2 separate regions of the Homo sapiens genome follow, and region 2 is linked to region 1. Evidence: fine-mapped expression QTL. A gene starts in region 1. The other region holds a variant in brackets. All regions are shown on one strand. Distances are from middle to middle. Region 1 holds the start of PAPOLA (poly(A) polymerase alpha). Region 2 overlaps AK7 (adenylate kinase 7).

Evidence for each region. PIP is the estimated chance that this variant, and not a neighbour inherited with it, causes the effect.
Region 2: its variant is fine-mapped to the expression of PAPOLA in whole blood (INTERVAL, PIP above 0.99).

The regions. Positions count from the first base shown.
Region 1 is chr14:96,499,553-96,504,929 of GRCh38, reverse strand. It overlaps PAPOLA (poly(A) polymerase alpha), which reads right to left and starts at 2,548. Exons shown (of 22, transcript NM_032632.5): 1 at 2,330-2,548. The coding sequence starts at 2,337. It overlaps PAPOLA-DT (PAPOLA divergent transcript), which reads left to right and starts at 2,604. Exons shown (of 1, transcript NR_122121.1): 1 at 2,604-3,282. RefSeq lists enhancers at 1-398, 399-900, 2,056-2,651, 2,475-2,734, 2,652-3,246 and 1 more and silencers at 2,235-2,354, 2,793-3,136.
Region 2 is chr14:96,469,898-96,475,274 of GRCh38, reverse strand. It overlaps AK7 (adenylate kinase 7), which reads right to left. Exons shown (of 18, transcript NM_152327.5): 13 at 3,669-3,797; 14 at 2,520-2,588. Among named protein-coding and RNA genes, the nearest start is that of PAPOLA-DT, 30 kb to the left of the region's middle. RefSeq lists a silencer at 1,037-1,237. The variant C/T (reference allele first, on the strand shown) is at 2,952.

The DNA.
Region 1 (5,377 bases):
GCCACTCACCCATCCAAATTTAACATTAGGACAGGTATACCAAAAATGAAAGCCAAACACAATATAGCCGGGAAATCACAATCCAACACATCAAAAAAACAACATTTATGACAGTGTGACAGCAGTACATGAAAAACAAAGCAACTTAATGAGGAAGAAGCCCTATTTTTCTTTAACTAGGCATTCTTTGGTCTCTCTATTGTTTACTACAGTAATTATCGTATACTTACTTTTTGAGTCTCGCTCTGTCACCCAGGCTGGAACGCAGTGGCATGATCAAGGCTCACTGCAGCCTCAGCCTCCTGGGCTCAAGCAGTCCTCCCACCTCAACCTCCCAAGTAGCTGGGATTACAGGCATGAGCCACCACGCCCAGCTAACTTGTGTTTTTTGTTGAGATGAAGTTTCGCCATGTTGCCCAGGCTGATCTCAAACTCCTGGCCTCAAGCGATTTACCTGCCTGGGCCTCCCAAAGTGCTGGGATTACAGGCGTGAACCACCGCGCCTGGCCCCGTCTTCCATTTTACACACTTGAACTAACTCGCGAAGAATTTGAAATACCTAAGGTCTTTCACAGAAATGTATACCTTCCCTCTTCAAAGAATGTTGGGGGAAAGTAGGTATAAAAGTACTTTTAATTCCTAGAAATAAGACACAAATTACTTAATGTTATTTCTTCATTGAAGCCTTTTAAGGTTTACATCTATCATTTTTAATGCTGGTATGATTATCAGAAAAAGAAGTCCCTTTTCAAAGACAGCAAAATGTTAACTTAATAACGCAGTCATCACGACATCACTGCAAACATTTATCTCCTATTGAACTGAGAAACACCACAACAATCTTGCTTAGACTCAGTTCTCCTAGGGTCTCTTATTCTATGAAAGGGAAAAATCAATAAACAGAAACCATGCAGATTCCAAGATTTTAGACCTGTATAGTTAGTTAAGTCTAACAAACGTTTTCATCACAGAAGTAATGTGATAGACTTCTTAATAACCTAAGGGGGTGGGTGGGAGCCATGGAAAATCCTTTTAAAATACATAAATTGCGATAGAAGTCATTAAGGTCTGTGCCAAAGTTAGAGTCTCACCTGTAAAGAAACACATTCACACACATATATAATTGTAAAACTACAATCGGTGATTATGTGCTAAAGAAATTATCCTTACTTACAAAAAAAAAATAGACCTGAGTTACTACATTCGATGTCTAGAAACCACAAAAATCTTTATCCTGAATTTAACCAAAACTTTGAGTGTCAATTACATGTTGCGTTTTGAGGCTACTAAGATGAAGAAAACTCGGTCCCTGGTCTCAAAGAGGCACTCTTACGCTTCAATATTCAAAAATGGAAGAAATGCAGTCTCACTATTTAGGCCTCTACAATGCTGTATATTTGCAGGAAAAAAAAAATCCGTAATCTACTGGCAATGAGCTGCCAAATTATATCTCATTATCAGAAAGGGGGAGGGGAGAAAAAAACTTTTTAAAAACCCACCAAGAAAAGAAAAAGGCGCAGTGGCATTAGAAAGCATAAAGAGACTAGCTTCAAGCCTTACAACCAGGAAAAAAAAAGTATCACCAGAGATAGAGAAAGAAGGAAACAGAATGAAACCTGGTTACCCCATCAAAACAAAACAGGGAAAGCAATACATAAGTCGTTTTGGAGGAGGGCACCCTGTGAAGTGCCCCCTTCTCCGACCGCCTGTGAATGCTAGGGAGGCGGAGGTGGAGGCAGGCGGACTCAACGCTCAAAGCTGGGCTTTTAACTCGTGCTCCTACATTCAGACAAGGTCAGTGGAAAGGGGCTAACTCCGGCGCACAAGACAGGCATCTGGAAATGGGAGGAAGAGAGTGAGCAAACTGAGACAGACCAGGAACAGAAAAGCAACATCGAATGGGCCCGAGGGGCGCCGAGAGCGAGCCCGAACCCCAAGTGCTGATCCCGCGTGCAGCAGGGTCGTGGTTCCCCACCACCAGGCAATGTTTTGTTTTCGGGTTGTTTTGATTTTCTTTGTGGACGGGGCGGAGAAGCTGGAGTGGCCGGGCGAGTTAGAGGTTCCGCCAGCAATTCCGGAAGGGGAAGGCCCCCGGCCCGACGGCAGCTGACCCAGCCAGGAAGGGTCGGGGGACGCGGGAACCCAGCACACGGGGGGAAGTGCGGCGGCGAGCGAGCGAGGAAACAGGAAGGTCCCCAGTCCTGCCTGCCTCCTACCAGCGGGGAGGGTCGGGCTCGCGTGCCACCCTCTCCGCCTACCTCTTCCCCTTCCCGGACGCCCCCCAAGGCCCAGCCGGCGAGCGAAAGAAAACAGAATACAAATTACTTACAACGGCATCGTCTCCGGCGCCGGCACCGCCCAGTCACTTCCCCCCCGCAACCGCCGCCGCTGCCGCCCTGGGCATGATCCACTGAGGCGGGAGGGAGGGGGGGGCCTGCCTCAGCCCTGGGTCCAACCCCTCTCCCGCACCGCTCCCGCCGCTTTAAGCGCTTCTCCTCCTTCCCCTTCGTCCTAACATGGCGCCCGAGCGCTACCACAGCAACGTTCTAGAACTGCTGACGCCACCACGCACGCCGTGCGTGCGCCTGCGCACCAGCGCCGTCCGCCGCGAAGCCTCACGGGAAGCGGAGTTCCTAAGGCCGCCTGCGGCCCGGCAATTACCCCCTGGGTCCTCTCACACTTAGCAGTGGGTGTCAGATGGTGGAAGGGAACGCTCAGGGAGGCCCCGGGCGGTGAGTTGTCCCTCGGGCGGGGACGCCCTCGTGGGCAGTGCGGCGTGGACGGCGCAAGGAAGAACCCGGAGAGATCCCAAGCCACGAGGCACCGCTTCCGGCGCATTGTGAGGTCCCACCTTTCCCGCCGCCTGAGGTCGCGGCGGCTGCTCTTTCCCGGAGCAGCGTCCCTGGAGGCGCTGCCAGGGGGTGAGGCACCCACGCGTGCACCGTATGTACCCCCCAGCGCGGCGCTTAGAACGACTCGCATGAGTCGCTGCCTTGGGTTGGAACCGGTTACTCCGCCGCTTCGTACTGGACTGCAAAGTAACAAGTACTTCGCCGGGCAGCGGTGCCGACCCCGTGTGCTACGGCGAGAGGTGCTTAGCCTAGAGCCGACGAAAACATGTCCCCAGGACTCCCTTTCCCTCCCAGACTGCGTCCCACCAGATGGAGCTTTCCGTCTGTTTTAACCACCAGTGTATTCCTGATGCCTGACCCAGGCGCTGAAATATTTGTTGAACGAATAAATGTGTAGGTTAGGACTGACGACAGTCCGCGAATTCTGGAACACGGGCTGATTTTACTTTTGAACAAATGATGCACTGGAACTTCCTGACAGAGCTGACCTTTTATAGGAACATCAATGGCAGTCACCGCTGGCATTTTAGCAAAGGTTGTCTTGGTCATAATTTCCCCTTGACTGTGTTTCCAGCCCTTAATCTATATCGGGTGGGACCTGGAAGTCTACCTTCTCGCCACCCCTCGGCAAAAGTTTGAGAAAGTGTTTGAGGCAGAGCCTCCTCTCTCATATGCCCTCCATCTGCGAATTAGAACGAATTATAAGTTCTACGGTGTCACATAGGGGGTTAGCGGAGAGGAAGAGGGAAAGAATCAAATACAGGACGCTGCCTTAACCAAAGTTCTAAACTCTAAATGTAATAATGTGCATTTGTGAGTCCTCAGGAAGTTTCACAAAGGCTTTCCCTTTTTTCACAGAATGTCTAGTAGGACTGGTGACTCCGAATGGGAAAAACACAGGACCTAGACCTGCCCTGTCCATTAGTGTAGCCCCTTGGCCACTTAGGGCCACTGAGCACTTGAAATGAGGCTAGTTCGTTTAGGAGGCACTGGAAGTGCAAAATACGCACGGGTGTCAGTTCGACGAATGTGAAATACCTCACTGATCACTTTTTATATTGATTGCACGTTGAAATATTTTGGATATATTGCAGTAAAGAAAATGTAAGCCGGGCACGGTGTCTCACACCTGTGATCCAGCACTTTAGGAGGCTGAGGTGGGAGGATCGCTTGGGCAGGAGTTAGAGACCAGCCTGGGCAATATAGGGAAACCCCCGTCTATACAAAAAGTTAAAAAAAAAAAAAAAAAAAGAAAAAAGAAAAAAAAATTAGCTGGGCATGGTAGTTCCTGCCTGTGGTCCCAGTTACTCCGGAGACTGAGGTAGGAGGATCCCTGGAGTGGGAGGTGGAGGCTGCCGTGAGTCGTCATCTCACTACTGCACTCCAGCCTGCGTTGACAGAACGAGATCCTGTCTCAAAAAAAAAAAAAAGAAAATATACTATTAAAATTAATTTTACCTGTTTTTTTAAATGTGACCACTAGAAAATTTTAAGTTATATATGTGGCCTTCATTTCCATTAAATAGTGCTGATCTGCAAACAGACTTATATTTGATTGTCATTTCTTCCATTTAGTCTCTTTTCCTCTTGTCATCAAGGTGGCTTTGGCTGGAGACCCAGTAGCATAGTTGTCCCTAAAAGACTGAAAATCTGAGATCCAGATAATTCAATAATGTATTAAGGCTATGGACTTCAAAGCAGCTTGTAAAGATATGCCCTGGGGCCTGGCACAGTGGCTCACTCACACCTGTAATCCCAGCACTTTGGGAGGCAGAGGATTCCTTGAGCTCGGGAGTTCTAGGCCACCCTGGGCAACGTGGCAAGTCGTTGTCTCTACTAAAAAAAAAAATCAAAAAAATTAGCTGGCCTTGGTGGCACACACCTGTAGTCCCAGCTACTTGGGAGGCTGAGGTTGGGAGGATCACCTGAGGCAAGGAAGTTGAGACTGCAGTGAGCCCTGATCATGCCATTGCACTCTAGCTTGGCAACAGAGCAAGACATTGTTCAAAAAAAAAAAAAAAAAATGCACTAACGATGTACTTTATGAATAAAAGAATGGGGACTTTTTCAGCTTATGTTGTCCTCTGCCAGGCATCTCAGAAGGCAGTGAAGAGAGGGACGCTAAACATCCATGCTTTTGGTCTATAATTGCTTCAAACTATTTTTGTTTCAGCCTTCCATAGAATGAGGCAGCTAGATAGCACAGCTGATGAATATTTAGTACCTAGAATGTGCTAGATATCACGCTACTTGCCTAAGGCATTTAAAAGGAACAATATTGAGGATTGAGGATGGAGTCAAGGTAGACTTCATGTAAGAGGTCACTTCAGACACGTCCTGATATGTTAGGGTTTGGTAAGTGGACAGAAGGAGTAGAAGGGCATCTCAGGTAAAGAGAACAATTTTTAAAAATAAAATGAGGCCGGGCGCAGTGGCTCACGCCTGTAATCCCAACACTTTGGGAGGCTGAGGTTGGAAGATCACTTGAGGTCAGGAGTTGGAGATCAGCCTGGCAAACATGTTGA
Region 2 (5,377 bases), 30 kb after region 1:
ACCATTCAGTTCCCTCCCTCAATTAAAATCCTACAAGTACGAATGAAACAATGCCCTACTTTCTTTCAGAGAAATAGAAAATAAAGACAATTTCTGAAAAGTTTGCTAACAACAGATTAACGTTCCAAATAGATTACGTCTTAGACGTGTTTGCACTGTGTCCAACAAAGAATGGAAAGTCCAGTGGCCTACGTTTAAGAGTCCTTGGTCACTTGACCTCTGTGCTTCCATTTCCTTATCTCACAGGCAGGTTTCATTAATTGTTTTGGAGGCAGTGGAGTGAGAAGACCTGAGTTTTAATTTAATCCCCCTACCATTTACTAGTGAGTGGACTTGCATAAATCTCTAGGCTTTAGCTTCTGGATTGGGTAAACATGGGTGTAATTCCTGCCTTGCAGGATTGTGGAAAGGTTCAATGAGTGCCTGGCACATGACAAATTGTGCACGACCAATTGCCAGTTGAACTGAAATGTATCCAGCTGCCTGGATGTTATGGGTGTTATGATTTAGCACAGAGTTTGCAATGAGTGAATATTGCCTAGAAGTGATAAACAAAATGCACTGGACACACCTACCTAGAATTTAATAATCAACAATAAAGTAGATGAACAAACTTTACTTTTTATTTTATTTTTTTAATTAATTTTTTTGAGACCGGTTCTTGCTCTGTTGCCCAGGCTGGAGTGCAGTGGTGTAATCAGGGCACCTGCAGCCTTGACTTCCCACACTCAAGTGATTCTCCTACCTCAGCCTTCCAAGTAGCTGGGACTACAGGTGCATGCCACCACCCCCAGCTAATTTTTTTGATTTTTTTTTTTTTTTTTTTTTAGTAGATATGAGGTCTCACTATGTTGCCCAGGCTGGTCTCTAACTCCTGAGCTCAAGAGATCCTCCCACCTTGACCTTCCAAAGTGCTGGCATTACAGGCACTGTGTCTGGCCAATCAACTTAGCCCACAGGCAAACAATAAATATCCATCCCCAAGGATGACTGCTATCTGGTGGTCTCAGTCCTTCCAGAAGCTTCTCTGCAAACTGTGCTGGACCAAGAGAAGAAAACAGCCACAAGCTGCCTTCCTCGGGGACTTGATACCAGTGAGCAGGCAGGCCCTTTTCAGTTACAGCCTTGTCCTAAGTTGCTGAAAATAGCTTTTCTTCTAGCGATCATATGACCCAAAATGATTCCCTATGAATATCTACCTCAAGCAAACTGACTAAAAACAACAACACTTTTTAACGTTTACAGGAAGGTCACAAGAAATGCCTGCTCAGTACTAAGTAAATCCTGTTGTGTACGATAAATTGCTTATGCTTTGCTTTCAAGAGTACTTTGTGAAATCCCTGTGTAAATATGTGATAGAATAAAACCACTGTGGAGTTAAGAGTGAACTGAAAAGCTTTTGACCTGTGCAATCTCAAGTCAGAAGCTGAATGTCTTTTGGAAGAGATGAGGGCACGGTTAGCACCAAAACCAGGGCAGGGAAGGAGGCTACATGACTCACGAAGTCAAGCCATCAGCAGATTTGCTACCTTTTGCTTTGTTACAGGAGAGAGCAGTGGAAGACAACGTTCCCACAGGGATTTCTATTCATTTCAGCAATTTAATATTCCTCATGTTTATCCGTTGGTGCATTCTCTAGTTTGCAAGTTTATGCTTGAGAATGTCTTTTAATATTTTTCCTAAAAAAAAAAATCCTACTTTATTAAACTCAAAAAGATTCTTTTGGCACAAAAGGGATATTGGGCTACTCTAGGCACACTGCCTATGGTGTAGCCCTGCTCCTTAAGAAGTAGTTAAAAAAAAAAAAAAAGAGCCTGGGCAAGGTGGCTCACACTTGTAATCCCAGCACTTTGGGAGGCCAAGGCGGGTGGGTCGGGAGATCGAGACCATCCTGGCTAACATGGTGAAACCCCGTCTCTACTAAAAATACAAAAAAATTAGCCAGTCATGGTGGTAGGCGCCTGTAGTCCCAGCTGCTGGGGAGACTGAGGCAGGAGAATGGCGTGAACCCGGGAGGCAGAGCTTGCAGTGAGCTGAGATCGCGCCACTGCACTCCAGCCTGGGCAACAGGGCAAGACTCAGTCTCAAAAAAAAAAAAAAAATTAGCTGGGCATGGTGGCAGGCACCTGTAGTCCCAGTTACCGGGGAAAACAAAGAGAAAAGAGAGAGATATCAGACAGCATTCTTCTTTTCTTTTGAAACAGAGTCTCTGTCGCCCAGGCTGGAGTGCAGTGGCAGGATCTCGGCTCACTGCAATCTCTGTCTTCTGGGTTCAAGTGATTCTCCTGCCTTAGCCTCCCGAGTAGCTAGGACTACAGGCACACGCTACGACACCCAGCTAATTTTTGTATTTCTAGTAGAGATGGGGTTTCGCCATGTTGGCCAGGCTGGTCTTGAACTCCTGACCTCAGGTGATCCACCCGCCTTGGCCTCCCAAAGTTCTGAGATTACAGGCGTGAGCCACCACGCCCAGCCCAGAGAACATTCTTTTAAATGTGATCTTAGGGAAATAAACTTACCAGGTATAATTAATTTATCAAAGGGAAACATTCTGCCTCTGACATCATCTTCCTCCTCCTCATCTTCCTCTAAGAAAACAAAATATTCCTCATTGTGTTTATTAATATATTATTACTATGGATCACAGCAAAAAATTCCAAATATCTTAAGTAGCAAGCACTAATGAAAACTAGCCATAAATAGCACATGTATTTTAGAAATAGTCTCACAAACTAAATGTACATTGATAGATGCATGGATAAAGAAAATGTAGTATATACATCCAACAGAATACTATTCAGCCTTTAAAAAGAAGGAAATGGCTGGGCATCATGGCTCACACCTGTAATCCCAACAATTTGGGAGGCCAAGGCAGTAGGATCACCTGAAGCCAGGAGTTCAGAGATCAACCTGGCAACAGGGTGAAACCTCCATAACATTTTTAAATTAGT[C/T]GGGCGTGGTCATGCACGCCTGTAGTCCCAGCTACTCGGGAGACTGAGGCAGGAAAACCACTTGAGCCCAGGAGGTCAAGGCTGCAGTAAACTATGATTGTATATATCACTGTGCTCCAGCCTGGGTGACGGATGGTCTATTTTTTTTTTAAAGGAAATTCTGCTATATGCAACAACAAGGATGAACCTTGAGGACATTATGCTAAGTGAAATCAGTGACAGAAAGACAAATGCTACATGATTCCACTTACATGGGGAACTTGAGTAGTCAAATTCAAAGAATGAAAGAGTGGGATGGTGGTTGCCAGGGGCTGGGGAGGGGAAAAAACAAAAGTTACTAATCAACAGGCGTAAAGTTTTAATCAGGCAAGATGCATAAGCTCTAGAGGTGTGCTGAACATCACAGTGCCTATAGCCAACGATAATGTATCGCACACTTAAAAGCTTGTTCCGAGGGCAGATCTCGTGTTAAGTATTTGTGCCACAATACAATAAAATAAAATTTTAAAAAATTTGTAAAAGGCTATGCACCTTGAGCCACCATCCAGGGGGAAAAAAAAAGAAAAAAAAAAGCTACGTAAAGAAAGGTGAGCCAAAGCTCAAAAATAAATAGTCTCTCTAGTTTTCTGTTTACTTTAATTGAGTGACTACTTCTCTGAACAATAAAGTTGCAACTTATCTGAATATAAATACTCAAAATAGAACACTCAAACTTACGATTGAACAGGTCTTTTGCTTGATCATAGGTCTTTGGGAATCCATCCAAAATATAACCTTGATTCCTGCAAGGCATTGATTTTAGCTTTTCTTTCATAAATCTAATTATATATTGATCGTCTAGTTGACCTGATAAAAAAACATATATGTATATATTACTTATAATGTATCACATTCTAAGTAAGAGTTGTTTTAAAGTTATCTCAAAAATTGTTGTGTAGTCAAAGGTACTATTGGAAATCCCTATTTTGCTTTTTTTTTTTTTTTTTTTTTAAAGAGACGGGGTCTCACTCTGTCGCCCAGGCTGGAATGCAGTGGTGTGGTCATAGCTCACTGCAGTCTCAGCCTCCCAGGCTCTGCAATCTTCCCACCTCAGCCTCCCAAGTAGCTGGGACTATAGGCGCTTGCCACCATGCCCCACTGATTTTTAAACGTTTTGTAGAGAAAGGATCTTGCAATGTTGCCCAGGCTAGTCTTGAACTCCTGGCCTCAAGCAATCCTCCCACCTTGGCCTCCCAAAATGTTGGGATTACATTTTGGCCCTTAAAGTAAAAAATATGTGATTTTGTACTTTGAACATGATGTGAATTCTAATGCACAGTAATGTAGGAGAACCCAGTGAACTTGTCTGCAAGAAAGAGCATGGGCGAGTGCCGATGTCTGCACTTTCAAAGTGTTCTGTAATCCCAATTTTTGGTGAAATTGATTGAGGAGCAGCAACTGGAGTAATGCAGAGAGCTCCGCCCGCCCGCAGGGTTTCTGTTTTGATATTACACCTCTGTAACCTTACTATACAATAATAAATGCTTCTGTTGTGAGAATTGTGAGATAGCATTCATGTTTGTTGCCAGCACATAATTTACTAAAAGAAGGTGCTGGATTTGACTAACAATCAAACTTGACCCGACCCTCAAAGGCACTTTTCTCTGTAATGCTTCAGAAAAGAACACGGCTCCCTTCTCCGTGTCTTTTCCAGTTGGCATTTCTGACCTCAGCCCCACTGGACAGTTCCCTCTCAAGCCCTGACACTGGGTTCCTGGCACTGCTTGGGAAGGATGAGGAGGGAGGAGTTTGTTCTAAAACTGGCACAGTGGTTTAATAACAACATGATGCAACTCCACCACAATATCCATCACTCCATCATAATTATTGAACAGCTACAATGTTCAAAACGCAGCCCCATCCTTACCTTGCTTAATGTGTACATTATAGTAATGTAAGTTTGACAAGTTAGGGAAATTGATCTTCAAAGCTCTTTCCAGAGTTTGTACTATTCCTTTACCTTATCAGTGAATCTATTATTCTTTTACCTTATCAGTGACTCCCCCTCCTCCTCTCCCTCCTCATCCTTCTCCGCCTTCTCATCCTCCCCCTCTTCCTTCCCTCCTCCTCCCCCCTCATTTTACATAATGTAAAATAAATAATTTCAGGCTTCTTTTTTATTACTCTATCAATGACAATAAACTGATCTAATTAAAACACCTCTCCCGGGCGGGCGCGGTGGCTCACACCTATAATCTCAGCACTTTGGGAGGCCAAGGTGGGTGGATTACCTGAGGTTGGGAGTTCGAGACCAGCCTGACCAACATGGAGAAACTCTCATCTCTACTAAAAATACAAAATTAGCCGGGCGTGGTGGCACATGCCTGTAATCCCAGCTACTCGAGAGGCTAAGGCAGGAGAATCGCTTGAACCCGGGAGGCGGAGGT